4 linked regions of the Homo sapiens genome follow. The protein of the gene in region 4 purifies or fractionates together with the protein of the main gene of each other region. This does not show direct contact. Each region holds a gene or a part of one and is shown on either strand. Other genes may lie near its edges. The genes, in order: VPS13C, EPB41, ZNG1C and C2CD2.

What was found.
Region 1: the proteins of C2CD2 (region 4) and VPS13C purify together in Homo sapiens (affinity purification with mass spectrometry; one large-scale study listed by BioGRID and IntAct). This does not show direct contact.
Region 2: the proteins of C2CD2 (region 4) and EPB41 purify together in Homo sapiens (affinity purification with mass spectrometry; one large-scale study listed by BioGRID and IntAct). This does not show direct contact.
Region 3: the proteins of C2CD2 (region 4) and ZNG1C purify together in Homo sapiens (affinity purification with mass spectrometry; one large-scale study listed by BioGRID and IntAct). This does not show direct contact.

The regions. Positions count from the first base shown.
Region 1 is NC_000015.10:61,920,653-61,925,076, reverse strand, and holds part of VPS13C (intermembrane lipid transfer protein VPS13C), read left to right. Parts: intron 1-2,314; coding exon 2,315-2,680; intron 2,681-3,043; coding exon 3,044-3,130; intron 3,131-4,424. UniProt on the Homo sapiens protein: Mediates the transfer of lipids between membranes at organelle contact sites. Necessary for proper mitochondrial function and maintenance of mitochondrial transmembrane potential.
Region 2 is NC_000001.11:28,990,407-28,994,830, forward strand, and holds part of EPB41 (protein 4.1), read left to right. Parts: intron 1-2,923; coding exon 2,924-3,136; intron 3,137-4,424. UniProt on the Homo sapiens protein: Protein 4.1 is a major structural element of the erythrocyte membrane skeleton. It plays a key role in regulating membrane physical properties of mechanical stability and deformability by stabilizing spectrin-actin interaction. Recruits DLG1 to membranes.
Region 3 is NC_000009.12:68,248,111-68,252,534, reverse strand, and holds part of ZNG1C (zinc-regulated GTPase metalloprotein activator 1C), read right to left. Parts: intron 3,730-4,424; coding exon 3,638-3,729; intron 1-3,637.
Region 4 is NC_000021.9:41,901,343-41,905,766, reverse strand, and holds part of C2CD2 (C2 domain-containing protein 2), read left to right. Parts: coding exon 1-43; intron 44-4,017; coding exon 4,018-4,145; intron 4,146-4,424.

The sequences.
Region 1 (4,424 bases), on a different chromosome or scaffold from region 4:
GATGTATAAGTTGATTGAATTTAATAACTATATGATTTGGCTTCAAATATTTATAATGACAGATGTACACTAGAAATAATTATTGGAGTTTACTGTTTTATTCACTACATTTAAAGCATTGAAAAACAATTATTGTTTTCCAATGGCGTTCAGGTTCTTTAAGTATACCTCGTGCCCAGTCACGAATAGAAGATATAGAATACTTTCTGCAATCTATTTCTCTGTTTGCACAAAGGATACAAAAATGAGTCCTTTTTTGGTTAATTGGTTAATGCCAATAATGGTAGTAGCTTTACTTATATAGGTCCGTGACCAACAGTGATTGAACTAAGGCTCAAACTCATTTCATTTGAAGTACCATGTAAATATCAATTTAGTTTTTTCTCAATATTTTAAAATACTGGATAGTCTTAGAATGTATATTGTTAATGGATTTACTTTTAAAAATATATAAAGTAGTAAATGAGGGAAAAACTCCTCGAATTTGCATATTTTAAAGCACTAGGTTAGGTGCTGGTGAGACTTTACATTCTTTGTGTATAAATTTATGATTGATTCAAAAAACGTTTTTGAGCTTTTACTGTGTATTAAAAAAATGTCCTTTACAAGGCATTGGGGATATGTAGCCCCTGCTGTCAAAAAACTTAATGACATATGCGGGAGAAAGAAAGAAATCAGTGATTACAGCTTTCAGTGCTAGAGGCATGGCCAAGATGCAGTTGGGAGCACAGGCATGGGGCCTTTAATTCAGACCAGGACATCAGGGAAAGCTGTGTAGAAGCAGGACTATTTGATTTGAGTTTTGAAGGGAGATTAAATAGATGGGGAGCATGGAAAGGTTTATCCAGACAGAACTGATAATATGCACAAAGGCAGAGGTGTGAAAAAATCCTTTAAGATTTAGAGGGGTGGCCGGGCGCGGTGGCCTCACGCCTGTAATCCCAGCACTTTGGGAGGCCGAGGCGGGCGGATCACGAGGTCAGGAGATCGAGACCATCCCGGCTAAAACGGTGAAACCCCGTCTCTACTAAAAAATACAAAAAATTAGCCGGGCGTAGTGGCGGGCGCCTGTAGTCCCAGCTACTTGGGAGGCTGAGGCAGGAGAATGGCGTGAACCCGGGAGGCGGAGCTTGCAGTGAGCCGAGATCCCGCCACTGCACTCCAGCCTGGGCGACAGAGCGAGACTCCGTCTCAAAAAAAAAAAAAAAAAAAAAAGATTTAGAGGGGTGGTCACATATGGCTGGAGAGAATGGTGTGGTGGCGTTGTAAGACTGGAAGCATTAATTATAAGTGACATTAATAAGACACGGAAAAAAAGTTGACAAGTAAGTTAGGAAAACAATACATACTAGATCCTGCTTTTGATGATATAATTATATCCCTTTACATTTTAAGTAAGGATTGTGAGAAGTGAACAATAAAGGAATACAGTTAACTTATTTAACCTAGTATTTCTCAAACTTTGGGAGAATCCTGGCTAGCTGGTTGAATAGGCACTAGGCCACAAAGAGCTCTGCACATTAAGTTAAAGAGAGTTTCAATTTTATCTTGTGGGATAAAAAAATTATGGGAAGTTGATGAAGATTTTAAACATAAGAATGTCATACTCAGATTTGGTTTGTAGAAAAATTATGCTGGTGGCAGTGTGGAGTGTAGGCTGAGAGGGCGTTGGCCGTAGAAGATGTCATCAGTGTAGAACTAAGGCACAGTAATAGGAAGTGAGGGAAGTGAGCAAAGAAAGGCACTGTCCAAAGATAATAAGAGGTAGGATTTATAGATCTTGGGGTAAGTCAAAGGAGAGCTGTGATTTTGAGTCTTCCAGCTTTAATAAGGCAAATGTATATCTTTTTCTTCCTTTTTTTTTTTTTCAGAAGATCTTGTTGCATACCGATATTTATGTGTATCTTGACAAGGATCACACACTTTGGCTTAGTTAATGTAGCTGTTTTTAAAATGAAGAATTTGTTTACATTGCTATACTTGTCTATTCACATAACACTGTTTTGCTCTGAATTGATCAGCTTAACTTTAGATTTTGACTACTGACATATAACATTAGTTATTTAATTCCAGATAACCTGAGTAGAAGTCAGTGTTGCATGATTACTTGGCTTGACACATAATTTTGTGTTCTCTCTTGTTTTTCTTGGTTACGAATTTATTCAAAATTTAAATTAGTTACTTTAATTTAAAATTAAAATTTAATTTAAAAATGTCACTTATAATTAATGTATGTCACTTAAAATCATGTATGTATATATTCTCATCTGGGAAAGAATTTATTATAAATATTTTTCTGCTTTCTTTTTTAAAGATTTCACCCATAATTCTTAATACTGTGTTGACAATCATGGCTGCATTGTCTCCAAAAACAAAAGAAGATGGATCCAAAGATACGTCTAAGGAAATGGAAAATCTTTGGGGTATCAAATCGATTAATGATTATAACACTTGGTTTCTTGGTGTTGACACGGCAACAGAAATAACGGAAAGCTTCAAAGGCATTGAACATTCACTGATAGAGGAAAATTGTGGTGTTGTTGTAGAATCCATTCAAGTTACCTTAGAATGTGGCCTTGGACATCGAACTGTACCTTTATTATTGGCAGAGTCTAAGTTTTCAGGAAATATTAAAAATTGGACTTCTCTAATGGCTGCTGTTGCTGACGTGACACTACAGGTATGGCCACATCACTTAATACCTTCAGAGACTTCTTGAAAGTGCGATTTTGGAATTAAGATATACACTTTTCTTGTTTGTGCATGGCCACTATGAGTACATATGTGAATAGATAGTGTGTTCTGACATTTAATTTGTCGATGTATTGTTTTTTGATAATTATTTTTTAAAGATTGATTTGCTAAATAATTTATGACAATAGAGTAAGAGAGTAAAGGAAAATACACTCTATATATTGTTAGATGGGTTTTGAAAATGGCTAATGATATATAACATTGATTACTTAATAATTTCCCTATTGGTTACAGAAATATGTAATTAAAGCCAAAGGACTGTCTTATAATTTTGTGTGTATCTTTCCAGGTGCACTATTACAATGAGATCCATGCTGTCTGGGAGCCACTGATTGAGAGAGTGGAGGGGAAGAGACAATGGAATTTAAGGCTTGATGTAAGGAAATCTTAAAATATCTTTGGATAGAATGATACTATGCATATTCATTCATAGTTTTTATTTCAGTGATTCTTAAGATGTGGTCTAGGATCCTTGAAGCCCTTTTAAGGGCTCTGTCCATGAGGTCAGAACTCTTTTCATATGTCATTTTCATTCTCATTCTCTCACGAGTGTATAGTGGAGTTTTCCAGAGACTAATGAAGGTGATACTGCAACAGATTGAATGCAGAACAGAAACGAGAATTTATCTGTCTTCCCTTAAGGCAGGCAGTAAAGAGATATATGTGTATGTTCCTCTTCTCACTGTATTTTTAAAATAGTTATTTTTGATTAAAAATGTTATTTATATTAGCATGTAATTTTTATTTTTAAATGAATTTTTAATTTTTTTTCAGTTTTAATTGTTAATAGAGTACATATTGGTAGATAAAACATAAATGAAGCTCTTTAGTATACTCAGTGATTTTTAAGGGTGAGACCAGAATATTTGAGAATTGTTAATGAACTCTTGTGTGTTATCTTTTTATGTTGTTTTTTGAGAACACCTCAGAAACCTAGATACTGAAGCACATTTTTCTTGATTAAAAGGAACTTGAGTCATATATTGTTAAGAAATTGTCGTAGCATACTTCTTTGGGGCAGCCTTACTAAGGAGTCAGGCACTGAAACTGACTCCACATATTCTTTTGTTAAAGATGAGTCACTTAACCTGTGTTCCAATTTCCTCTCAATAAAGAAGTAATATTTTTCTGACCTGCCTTTCTCTGGCATAGGGAGGCTAACAAAGAATGTTTTACAAGGCTTTTGAAATACTACTAGAACAGAAGCTGATGGAATCTGATGGCTAGTTAAGTGTTTATTATATTAATATTACTTATTTGAAGGTGTTATTGGTTTAAAAAATAGAAGGAGAGAAACATTTCCAGGTGGCACCTCTAATAGGGATCAGTTTAGACTTCAGGGTCCTCTTAGATTGCTCGTCAACACATAATCACCAGTTGGGTGACACTGAATAAATAGCTATGCTCTGAGGAATGCATAAGAGACAAATATTGTAGCTGGCTTTGAGTAATTTCATGGCGTAATTCTAAACTTTTCCCCATGCTTGGACTATACCCTGAAAGAATGAATGCTGAACTCCATGAAATCAAAGTGAAGCATGGTATATTTTTGAAAATAAGACTTTTGCGAAGCATTACTATAAAGTGATCAGTTTAGGAGAACTGAACTCCAGCATTTTTATTTTATTATCAACTGGCTAATAATTTAAATTTGCTGTGTTATTTTTCTT
Region 2 (4,424 bases), on a different chromosome or scaffold from region 4:
CTCTTTATTTATTTTCTTTTTTTCTTTCTTTCTTGACAGGGTCTCTCTCTGTCACCCAGACTAGAATACAGTGGTGTGATCATGGCTCACTACAGCCTCAACCTCCCGGGCTCAAGCTATCCTCCCATCTCAGTCTCCTGAGTAGTTGGGACTACAGGTGCATGCCACATGCCCAGCTAATTTTTAAATTTTTTGGTAGAGACGGTCTTGCTTTGTTGCCTAGGCTGGTCTTGAACTCCTGAACTCGAGCAATCCTTCTGCCTCAGCCTTCCAGAATGCTGGGATTACAGGCATGACCACTGTGCCTGGCCTCAAGGGGTTTTTAACTGCTTTTTTCTCCTTCAGCTTTATATAGGGGAAAATCCATATCTTGTTTTAGTTAACATTTGAATCAGAACTTGTCTGCATTGTCTAAAGTTCATAGATTCGTACTCAAGTTGACACAGATGATGGACAGTTAATTTTAGATTTAACTAAAATCTCATTCATTAAGATTTAATTCCGAATTGAAATAAATTGTCCGTAGGTTATTTGTCTTCATGTGGAGAAAAAGAAACGATATTGTTAGTAAAATTTCAAGGAGATATTATTTAAAAGAACAAACTATTTTAGGCCTTTTGGAAACTAATATTTATAGTCAAAACCTTGTGGATCAGAGTCGTCTGGATAAAGGTTTATTTGCCTAACCATGTTTCTGTATATGTAATAGGATTTTATTTAAATGGTTCTTTTTTATCCAGAATTTTTTAAAAAGCGTGTTTGCTTTATATTATAAATATATAAATATATATTTATATTACATTTAAGTGTATAATATATATAAATATAGGATTGTACCAGTCTTCATCCAGAGTAGCTTGGATTTTTTGGAAGCCTATGTAAATTTTTAATGTTTGTTTATTCATTCAACAAATATTTATTGAAAACCTACCATGTGTGCCAGGCCCTAGGCTGGATATACCTTGGTAAATAAAAACTGCAATATGGTGAAGAGGTTTAAAATCATGGATTTTGGGGCTGAGTGTGGTGGCTCATGCCTGTAAATCCAGCACTCTGGGAGACTGAGGCAGGAGGATCACTAGAGCCCCGGAGTTCGAGACCAACCTGGGCAACATGGAGAAACACCATCTCTACAAAAAAGTAAAAAACTAGCTAGGCATGGTGGCTCTCCTGTAGTCCCAGCTACTTGGGATGTTGAGGTGGGAGGATCACTTGAGTCTGAGAGGTCGAGGCTGCATTGAGCCATGATTATGTCACTGCACTCCAGCCTGGGTGATAGAGTGAGACTCTTGTCTCAAAAAAAAAAAAAAAAAGCAAAAAAAACAAATCGTGGATTCTGAAGCCAGACTGGTATGTGACTTATTAATTGTATGATCCTAGGCAAGTTACTTAATTTCTCTGGCCTGTTTTACAACCCTGCAGGCCAGGTACTATTATCCTCCCTCTATCAAGTGGGGATATAATAATACTACGTGCCTCGCAGGGTAGTTATGAGGATTGAGTTAGTTCACATAAGTAATTTTCTTAGAATAGTGACTGGCCCATTGTAATTGTTGTATAAATGTTTGGTATTATTATTATTATAAAACAGACATGATTTCTACCCTTGTGGACTTTAATAGAGAAGACAAAAAAGTAGCAAATAAAAATAATTATTTATTGTAATAAGTTATAAAGCCACCAGAGTACTGATATGAAAGACAGTAGAGCGGGCATAGATAGATAGGATAGCCAGTGAAGAGACTTCCTGAGGTTGCAGTGAGAGGGTCATGAAAGATCGGAAGGAGTCTTTTAGATTACTTCCAGTATTTAATGCAGGAGTCAAATAATTAATTTCTTTTTCCTAATTGTCAACCATGCATTCTTTTTTTCTTTTAATTGTTTTCCAGCTGTTACACAAGGAAGTAACATATTCTTTTAAAAGAAAATAATTAGTCGGGTTTAGATAAAAATATGTCGGTAGTTTTGTTGTGTTGAAAGTAAAAGTAAAAATGTATGCCGGCCAGGCACGGTTGCTCACGCCTGTAATCCCAACACTTTGGGAGGCCGAGGCGGGCAGATCATGAGGTCAGGAGATCAAAACCATCCTGGCTAACGTGGTGAAACCCCATCTCTACTAAAAGTACAAAAAAATTAGCTGGGCGTGGTGGCGGGCGCCTGTAGTCCCAGCTATTCAGGAGGCCCAGGCAGGAGAATCGCTTGAACCCTGGAGGCGGAGCTTGGAGTAAGCCGAGATCGCGCCACTGCACTCCAGCCTGGGCTACAGAGTGAGACTCCGTCTCAAAAAAAAATGTATACCAAAAATGTTATCCTACTTATCGGTATTATTTGGGGATAATTTAAGATTGCACCAGGAAACTCTTCCTTCATTGACTCTTCTTTGCATTTAACATGATTAATATTGGGTAGAAAGGTGTTAGCTGGTAGTTAAAATTTTTAGCCTACTACATGTTTGCTTAATGATGTGAAATTGGTCCCAAGCATTTCTCTTAGAATTAAAATTAATTTAAAATTTAGAATATGTAACAAGTCACATCTTATTTTGCAGTTTGTAAGGCTACATTGCTAAAATTGAGGAGCATGGGCAGAGACAATAACGTTTTTGTTAAACTTTAATAATACCGTGTAATGGCTTGGTCAGGAAGAATATATAATGCTGAGAGCAATGGATTGGTATCCTCCGGTTTACCTGAGACCTTCATTTATTGATTTGATGGGATTCTACCTGAGAAGTTTTAATAACAAAGTCTTTAGGGCATTTGGGGGATCATACTATTTTTTATAGAAAAATATTTAATATTAATGTCACCTATATTTGTTTTAGTTCATGCTTTTATTGGTAAGATTATTATAGGTAAAAGCATATACAGCATGTTTTGTGAAATGTGTTTATTACTGACTTGGCGATGTCATGGATATGTAGCCTGCTCAGGAAGAACTCAGAGAAGATCCAGATTTTGAAATTAAGGAAGGAGAAGGACTTGAAGAGTGCTCCAAAATAGAAGTAAAAGAAGAAAGCCCTCAATCAAAAGCAGAAACAGAATTAAAAGCTTCCCAAAAACCAATCAGAAAACACAGGAACATGCACTGCAAGGTTTCTTTGTTGGATGACACAGTTTATGAATGTGTTGTGGAGGTGAGTATGTTTTCATTTCCAACAATCAGAACTCTTACAGGTGGTTTCATCTAGAGTTGCGTAAGTGGTGATTTTGCCCACGATAAGACTCACTGTAGTGATTATTTCTTTTTTCTTTTTTTTTTTTTTTTTGAGACAGAGTTTTGCTCTGTCACCCAGGCTGGAGTGCAGTGGCATGATCTTGGCTCACTGTAGCCCCCAACTCCCATGTTCAAGTGATTCTCCTGTCTCAGCCTCCCGAGTAGCTGGGATTACAGCCATGTGCCACCATGCCAGGCTAATTTTTTGTATTTTTAGTAGAGACAGATTTCACCATATTGGTCAGGCTGGTCTTGAAGTCCGGGCCTCAAGTGATCTGCCCACCTCGGCCTCCCAAATTGCTGGGATTACAGGCATGAGCCACTGCGCCCGGCCTTTAATGATTATTTCTGTAGATGGAAGTATTAATGGTGATTTTCTGGAGGTGGGATTATGGGAAGATGATGAGTAAGTCTTTAAGTCCAGTAAATGCCATTTCTTAAAATTTTCTGTTTTCTGAAAGAATAAGTGATTGAATCAGGATTGAAGAAAAATATCAGAGTTATTCAGTTACTCTTTTTGCTCCTTCAGGACAAGTTGACAATTTTTTTTTTGTTTGTTTGTTTTTTGAGACAGAGTCTCTCTCTGTCGTCCAGGCTGGAGTGCAGTGGTACAATCTCGGCTCACTGCAAGCTCTGCCTCCTGGGTTCACGCCATTCTCCTGCCTCAGCCTCCAGAGTAGCTGGGACTACAGGCACCCGCCACCACGCCTGGCTAGTTTTTTGTGTTTTAAGTAGAGACGGGGTTTCACCGTGTTAGCCAGGCTGGTCTCGATCTCCTGACCTCGTGATCTGCCCGCCTCGGCCTCCCAAAGTGCTGGGTTTACAGGCTTGAGCCACCGCGCCCGGCCAGAGCAAGTTGAAATTTTAAAAAAATCTACTAACTATATATTTTTCAAACTGGAACAGTAGTTGTTTATTATGATATGCTTGATATATAAGCAATTGCAATTGTTACTAGTAACAGCTTTTATTGACAAAGTGTGTAATTCACATATATGTGGAACAAACTATTTTATTTATTTATTTATTTATTTATTTATTTATTTATTTATTTGAGACAGGGTCTTGCTCTGTTGCCCAGGTTGAAGTGCAGTGGCGCAGTGACAGCTCACTGCAGCCTCAACCTCCTGGGCTCAGGTGATCCTCCCACCTCAGCCTCCTGAGTAGCTGGGACTACAGGCACATACCATCACACCTGGCTAATTTTT
Region 3 (4,424 bases), on a different chromosome or scaffold from region 4:
TATTTTTAGTCGAGATGGGGTTTCACTATGTTGGCCAGGCTGGTCTTAAACTCCTGAACTCGTGATCTGCCCATCTCGGCCTCCCAAAGTGCTGAGATTACAGGCATGAGCCACCGAGCCCGGCCAGCAACAGATTTTTAATGGAGATGAAATGGCCTCCTTTTGGAAGAAGATGCCATTTAGGACTTTCATAGCTATAGAGAAGTCAATGCCTGGCTTCAAAGATTCAAAGGACAGGCTGACTCTCTTGTTAGAGGCTAAAGCAGCTGGTGACTTCAAGTTGAAGCCAATAATCATTTACCATCCTGAAAATTCTAGGGCCATTAAGAATTATGCTAAATCTCCTCTGCCTGTTTTCTATAAATAATAAAGCCTAGATGACAGCACATCTGTTTACAGCATGGTTTATTTTAAGCCCACCATTGAGATCTACTGCTTAGAAAAAAAAAGATTCCTTCAAAATATTATTGCTCATTGACAACACACCTGATCACCCAAGAGCTGTGATGGAGATGTACAAGGAGATTAATGTTGTTTTCATGCCTGCTAACACAACATCCATTCTGCAGCCCACTGATCAAGGAGTAACTTTGACTTTTAAGTCTTATTTAAGAAATATATTTCATAAGGCTATAGCTACCATAGATAGTGATTCCTCTGATGGATCTAGGCAAAGTAAATTGAAAACCTTCTGGAAAGGATTCATCATTCTAGATGCCATTAAGAACATTCGTGATTCATGGGAGATCAAAGTATCAACATGAATAGGAGTTTGAAAGATGATTCCAGCCCTCACAGATGACTTTGAGGGATTTCAGACTTCAACGGAGGAAATAACTGCAGATATGGTGGAAACAGTAAGAGAACTAGAATTAGAAGGGGAGTCTGAAGATGTGACTCAATTCCTGCAATCTCATAAGAAAACTTTAACTAATGAGAAGTTGTTTCTTATGGACGGGAAAAGAACGTGGTTTCTTGAGATGGAATCTACTCCTGGTGAAGATGCTATGAACACTGTCAAAATGACAACAAAGGATTTAAAATATGACAGAAGCTTAATTGATAAAGCAGGGTTTGAGAGGACTGACTCCAATTTTGAAAGAAGTCATACTGTGGGTAAAATGCTATCAAATAGCATCATGTGCTATAGAGACATCTTTTATGAAAGGGAGAGTCAACTAATGCAGCAAACTTCATTATTATCTTATGAAATTGCGATAGCCACCCCAACCTTCAGTAACTACTACCCTGATTGGTCAGCACCCATCAACATTGTGGCAAGACCCTCTACCAGCAAAAAGATTATGACTTGCTGAAAGCTGAGATGATCGTTAGCATTTTTTAGCAATAAATATTTTTAATTAAGGTATGTATGTTTTTTAGACAATTCTATTACACATTTTATAGACTACAGTATAGTATAAACACAGCTTTTTTTTTTTTTTTTTTTTTTTAAGAAATGGGGTCTCATGCTGTCATCCAGGCTGGAGTGCGGTGGTGCAATCATGACTCACTGCAGCCTCAAACTCCTGAGCTCAAGTGATCCAAGTAGCTGGGACTACAGGCCTGTCACATCACACCCGGCCAAAACGCATAACTTTTATATGCAATGGGAAACAAAAAAATGTGTGTGACTCACTCTATTGTGATATTCAGTTTACTGCAGTGATATGGAACTAAGCCCACAATATCCCTGCGGTATGGCTGTACAGTATAAGAATCACCTGAAGGGCTTATTAAAAACAGCTTGCTTGACCCCCTCCCTTAGAGATTCCGATTCAGTAGATCTGGGTTGGTCAAGAATTTGCATTTCTAACAAGCTCCCAGCTGAGGCTGAGGCTGCCATTCAACATACTACCAAGTAGCACTGGCATAGAGAGATCCCTGGAATAAAATTTACCTACTTGTGTGTGTGTGTATGAATGTGTGTGTGTGTGTGTGCGTGTGCATGTGCGTGTGTGTGTATACAGTCTTGCTCTGTTGCCTGGGCTGGAGTGCAGTGGCGTGATCTCGGCTCACCATAACCTCCGCCTCCCAGCTTTCAAGCGATTCTCATGCCTTAGCCTCCTGAGTAGCTGGGATTATGGGGTGCGCCACAACGCCTGGCTAGTTTTTGAATTTTCAGTAGAGACTGGATTTCACCATGTTGGCTAGGCTGGTCTTGAACTCCTGGCCTCAAGGGATCCACCTGCCTCAGCCTCCCAAAGTGCTGGGATTACAGACATGAGCCACCATGCCCAGCCCTTACTTGTATATCACAATAGTGAGATGATTACTTTTCAACTTTCTTCTTTGTATTTTTTAGGTATTTAAATTTTTTTACAATGAATGTTCCATCTTTACCCAAACAATAAAATCTTTATTGTAAAGAAAGTTAGAAGCAAGAAACATTAACATTTTTTATAACTACAATTTGTATAAAAGCTTTCTCTGTGATCTTTAGTTTTTCTTTCTTCCTCTGAAAAGCTGAATAGTGTTTAATTAAACTCTCAAAAGTATCAAGTTTTTGTCTATAAAATGGCAAAACTGGCTATGATGAAATAAACTGATATTTGCTATTTCTAATAAAAGCATACAATATATTCTTTCTTACCAGATTCAAATAATATTTAACGCCAACATATTAGTCCAAGTCCTATCATCAGTCAGATTTATCAGAAAGGTATGAAAACCCATGCCTACTATAAGGACCAAAATAGCCTAATTCAATACTACTTTGAAAACATGGGGATGATGTTACTACGTAATTGTTTTAAGTACAATAACCACTGATCACATTTGAACTCTCAGGATACTTCAATATTTCTTTTGGACAACTATGACCTGTTTAGTAAATTACCCCCAAATACTTTAATATAGTTTTACAAATCGCCCCAATGCCAGAGACCCAGATCAAAAAGAAAATAATGGTATGGGTCAGATTCACAGAATAAGCACTAACTTTTATGCAAACTGAAAATAAAGATTTTATCTAAAAGTTATTTGGGGAAAATAAGCAGACTTTATCAAGAATTAGAGCTTGGTAAGAAGGTAACAGAAACCCATTGTGAGAAACAGGTTGACTCTGTGTAGCTTTCCATAGTAGAGTTTAGAGTTTCTTGTCATGATTACCTTATCAATGCAGTATAATAACTACTTACACAGCACTTACATTGTATTAGGTATTATAAGTAATCTACAGATGATTTAAAGTATATGGGAGGATGTGCATAGGTTATAGGCAAATACTACACCATTTTATGTAAGGGACTTGAACATTAATAGATTTTGGTATCCTCAGAGGTTCTGGAACTAATACGCCATGGATGCCAAGGGACAACTGTACTTAGAAGTAGAACGTCTCTGCTCTTCCTACATGTCCTTATTTTTAACAACTTCTGTTCTTACAAATAATCCTAAATCAATCAATAAAACTTCCAATTCTATTAACAGCTTAAAAGCACCAAGAAATACTCTGATCATTCATTCAACTGCCAAAGAAAATGACAAACGAGTACTTTTCCTCTTTTAAACCAAAAAAAGTTTTTGGTTTAATACTAACAAAAGCTTTAATACTCATTTTAGATATTCCTCTAATACATCTATTTACAATATATCACAGAACTATATTCTGGTTATTAATAATCTCACTTCTTACCAGGGTCTGCTAATCCAGTGGTCTCTAACAGTATGTCATCAAATTTCCCCTTCTTTTGCATCAAATTCTCAATAGCTCTAAGGCCATTGTCCCTGGAGAATACCAAAACATAATTTACAGTTAATTACCTAAATATTTTGAAGTGATTATTATAAACACTTTAAAATGTATTCAACAACCCGAGACAAAAGTATCCTTAGGAATGTGAAAATTTAACTCACTTCTAACCTTCTAACAAAATGTCTGTCCCATATTTACCAGTGAGAAAACAATAGATGCATATATATAATAGGTAAAAAGAAATCATATACATAATAATACTTTATTAAAATTAAAAGCAGAGGAAACTTTATCTGACCAAGTATCTTTTTATAGCTTTATGAAATTTTTAAAAACCAACATACAAAATAATGATAAAATTTATTAACTATAGTAGTTTAATATAATAGCTAAAGGGACACTGATATTAAACACCATATAATTCTATTTTACATTAGGATGCAAGGTTTTAAATTCCTTTTTTCTTATTTTATCAAAAGTGAAGGAAAATCCTTAATAGATTACATTTTGGTTGTTCAAGAAAGTCTGTTATAATTTTATCCTTGCCAAAACATTTGACACAAAGTCAAATACCTAAGGGAGTAAATGATGCCGAAGAGATTTAATTCACTAGAATACACAAAATTAACAATACAAGTAGTCATTTTTATAATTCATTCAACAAATATTTGAGTGCTACTATGTGTTGGGTAACTCTTCTAGGGTCTATGGTAGACTAGTGATCACT
Region 4 (4,424 bases):
CGCAGCGCCCCCGTCAGCAAAACACTCTCTTCTTCAGACACAGGTAACTGAGACACGCCCACGTCGCTCTCCCTCTTAGCACCTTTGGGCCTTTTGGGCTGTTCTGATATGAAGTATTTTCCTTTCAGAATTTGGAAAAAGTTGTTTTGGGCCTGGTGTGGTGGCTCACACCCGTAATCTCAGCACTTTGGGAGGCTGAGGCGGGTGGATCACTTGAGGTCAGGAATTTGAGACCAGCCTGGCCAACATGGCAAAACCCCATCTCTACTAAAAATACAAAAATTAGCTGGGCGTGGTGGCGCATGCCAGTAATCCCAGCTACTCAAGAGGCTTAGGCAGGAGAATCGCTTGAACCTGGGAGGCAGAGGTTGCAGTGAGCCGAGATTGCACCACTGCACTCCAACCTGGGTGACAGAGCGAGACCCTGTCTCTTAAAAAAAAAAAAAAAAAAAAAAAGTTTTGATTTGCTTTTGTTTTGTTAATGAGTGATGAGTGAAGGAGAGGGAGAAAAGGGAACTCCAAATTGATCAGAGACCAGGAGCGGCATTCATATTCCTGCTACATTTTAGGGAATGCTTTAACAAAATAAAAAGCCAACTGAGACTTTACATTTTAAATTTTCTGTTCATTTTTCTCTTGCACAACACGCTAGCTACATTAATAGCAAATAAGTAGGACTCAGGACATCGTCCTCACCGTCACTTTAATTTTATTCACCACTTTCTGCTTACACCAGCTTAGTAGAAGTAGTTTTCCCTTCCACTAGGAAATGGTCACTACGAATAGGAAATGCAAATTCCCTATTTTATGGTCAGTTTCAGGTAATAGACTTTTTGAAGAGATGTCTTACTGACTCATTAAATCACTGCGCAATCTAAATTTGGGGATTAACTTTCTCCCTTTGCCTCCTCGTGACCTGCTCTCAGGGGCAATGGATGCTTCCTTCTTGCTTAGCTCTCCCACATTCGCTGAGTCCTGTGTCTGACCTTGCCCAGGTCAACAACTGGGCAAGGTGGGGCAGTCAGGGGAGTGGAAAGTTCTCACTGGAGGGGCACTGTCTTAACATGGTGTTGGATTCTCAGCCTGGTGAAAGTTCATAACTGCCTCCTCCTCTTGTGGGAGGTTTTATGGTTTTTTGGATACTACCCCGCTGGGTCCCCCACCTGCAGTTCTGGGACGCAGGCCCTGCCCCTCCTTTCGTTACCAGAAAAGGATCTTGATCTAGACCCCAAGAGAGGGTTCTTGGATCTGGTGCAAGAAAGAATTCGGGGCGAGTCCACAGAGTAAATTGAAAACAAGTTATTAAGAAAGTAAAGGAATAAAAGAATGGCTACTCTGTAGGCAGAGAACCCGTACGGGCTGCTGGTTGGCTCTTTTTCTGGTTCTTTCTTGATCATATGTTAAACAAGTGGTGGATTATTCACGAGTTTTCTACGAGGGGCGGCGATTTCTCAGAACTGAGCATTCCTCCCCTTTTCAGACCACGTAGGGTAACTTCTTGCCTTTGCCATGGCAGTTGCAAACTGTCATGGTGCTGGTGGGAGTGTCTTTTAGCATGCTAATGCGTTATCCTCAGTGTATCATCGGCAGTGAGGACAGCCAGAGGTCACTCTCATTGCCGTCTTGGTTTTGGTAGGTTGTGGCCGGCTTCTTTACCACATCCTGTTTTATCAGCAGGGTCCTTGTGACCTGTGTCTTGTGCCGACCTCCTAGCTCACCCTGTGAGTAAGGGCACCTCACCTCCTGGGAGTGCAGCCCAGGGGATCCCAGCCTCATTTTGCCCAGCCCTTATTTGAGCTGGAGCCGCTCTGGTACTAATGCCGCTGATGCTTTTGCCGCTGCCCCTGATGCCCCTTCCTCAGTTTCTTCCCCTGGCAGTGCCCCCACTGCCCATGCTGCGGGGTCCTGTCACGTGGGCAGGATCCCTCTTAAAAGACCTAGGCTGATGTTCCCACTGTGGGTTCTGATGCATGGTCCATGGAGCCGGCCCCCAGGCTCACCTGCCACGGTGCAGGCTGCACCTGGCACCTGGACCGGGCTCTCGGGGGACTGAACAGAAGCACTGGGCCTGGCGTGAGGAGGACGTGCTCCCGACACGTCTCCCTTGGTGGCTTTGGGAATTACAGCACAGCTTTCTCCTAAGGAGTCCTCCCCAACTCCTTTCTCCAGCACTTCTCTCTTCTCAGTGTGGGTCAGTGGCTAAACAAAAATCTGTTCCTCTACTCACAACACTCCTGACGCCAAATGTGTAGATTTTCTATGGCAAGCAATTTTCTGTTTCTCTGCAGACACCAACTGGGTGTCCTACAATTTAATTCAATTCTGGCATTACCTGGAGTTAGCTCAGATCCCACAGGTGAAAGGCTCAGCCCCACAAAACCACCCTTCCACTTTAGATGTCAGGTGCAAATAGTGGGTCCCCAGGTTACCACACTTTTGTCCCACTTGGCTACAAATTGGGGTTTCCATGACACACTCCTCGGGTTCCGTAATTTGCTATAATGGCTCACAGAACTCAGAGAAACACTTTACTTGGGTTTACCAGTTTATTATCACACAAATGCACAGCCAGATGAAGGGGCTCAGGGCACAGTCTGGGAGGGTCCTGAGTGTGGGAGCTTTGATCTCCGTGGAGTCGCCCCTTTCCCAGTACGTGCATGCGTTGGTTCACAACCTGGACGCTCCCTGAGCCCTGTCATTTAGGGGGTTTATGGTGCTTCTATAAGTAGGTATGTAGGCATGATTGATTCACTTATTGGCCTTTGGTGATTTGAGCTCAATCTCTAGCCCCTTTCCCTTCCCCACAGGCGAGAGGAGGGCAGAAAGTTCCAGCCTTCTAACCACAGGGTTGGTGCCTCTGACATCCAGTGCCCGTCCTCATTAGCATTCACTCGGATGGGGTGCAGGGGCTTATTAGGAATGAGAAGGATGCCCCAGCTCCGTGGCTCTGGAATTCAAAGGATTTTTTTTTTTGTTCTCTGTGCCAGGAACCAGGGAGGAAGACCAAGTATCTATTTATTATTCCCCAGTGTCACTGTTGTCACCGGTTCTTGGCCTCTGTGGTCTTATCTTGACTCCCTTTGGAAATGCAGCATCTGTAAGCCTCAGGCCATGGCCAAAACCGAGACAGAAGTTCCTTTTACCATCCTGCTACTTTAATAGCTTTGCCATTTTGACTTTACCTGAGCAGGAAAGTGTAAGTTACAAGCATCAGCTCTGAGTCAGAGAGACCTGCTGGTCATCTCAGCTCTGGGGCCTCCTGGCTGCTGGACATACTCCTCAATGGTCAAATGGGATAAAAGGAAGGACCTGCTCATGGGGTGTGGAATAGGAGTAAATGAGAGAATGTGCACAGAGCTCTGTCTCTGAACAGCACCTGGTTTGCCGTAAGCATTCTATTGATGTTGGCTGGTGTGTGTTGTTATTAACCTGGGGAAGGAGGTGCTTTTATTAACTGGCCCTTCATAGCTCTAGTTACTATTCTATGTATTTAGGCACTCTTGGGAGGGAAAAGGAGTCACTACCTTGCCTTTCAAAGTTCAAAATCTTCCAAAGGGTTAGATATTTTTTTTTTGTTGTTTGCTTGCTTTTGCCATTTTCCATCAACTCTATTCAGGTATAACTTAAATAAATAAAATCGGTGAATCTTAAGCAGACACTTCAGTGAGTATCTTGTAACCACCCAGGGAATCAAGCTGTAGACCAGGGGTCAGCAAACAGCAAACTATGGCCCATAGGAAAAATCTGGCCCGTCACTTGTTTTTGTAAATAAAGTTTTACTGAAACCCAGCCATGCTCATTTATTTACCTGTGGTCTCTAGCTGGTTTCACTCTATAAAAGCTGCATTGAGAAGTTGTTGCAGAGACCACCAACAAAGCCTAAACAATTGACCCTTTGGCCCCTTTTAGAAAATATCTGCTAACCATTGCTTATCGACCATTTCCATTATCCCTGGAAGTTCCCATGGAAGTCTTTAATTTTTGCTGATGAACTTAACACTGCCTTCCTTCTGGTAGAATTGTTGGTGTTGAATGGTTCGGATCCAGTGGCTGAAGTGGCCATTCGACAGCTCAGTGAATCTTCAAAGCTGAAACTCAAGTCGCCACGGAAGAAAAGCACTATTATCATATCAGGGATCTCCAAGGTACCATCGTGGTGGCTGGGGAGGTGTTCATCTGGTCATCTGTCAGTGACCTGCTGCTCCTCTGCCCTTTGAAGAAGTTAGCCCAAGCACTTGGTTAACGTCCAGAGAGTTCCATTTACAAATGTCAAATTATGTTCCTCACCCCACAAAGGAGTCATGTGTGGTGTTGTGTTTACACAGTTTATCCTATTCACCAAGGACATGGGAGACTTTCTAATCAGGGACGCTTTACACGTTGAGAGGTTGGCAAATCATTTCAAGAAAAATTATCGAAAGAGA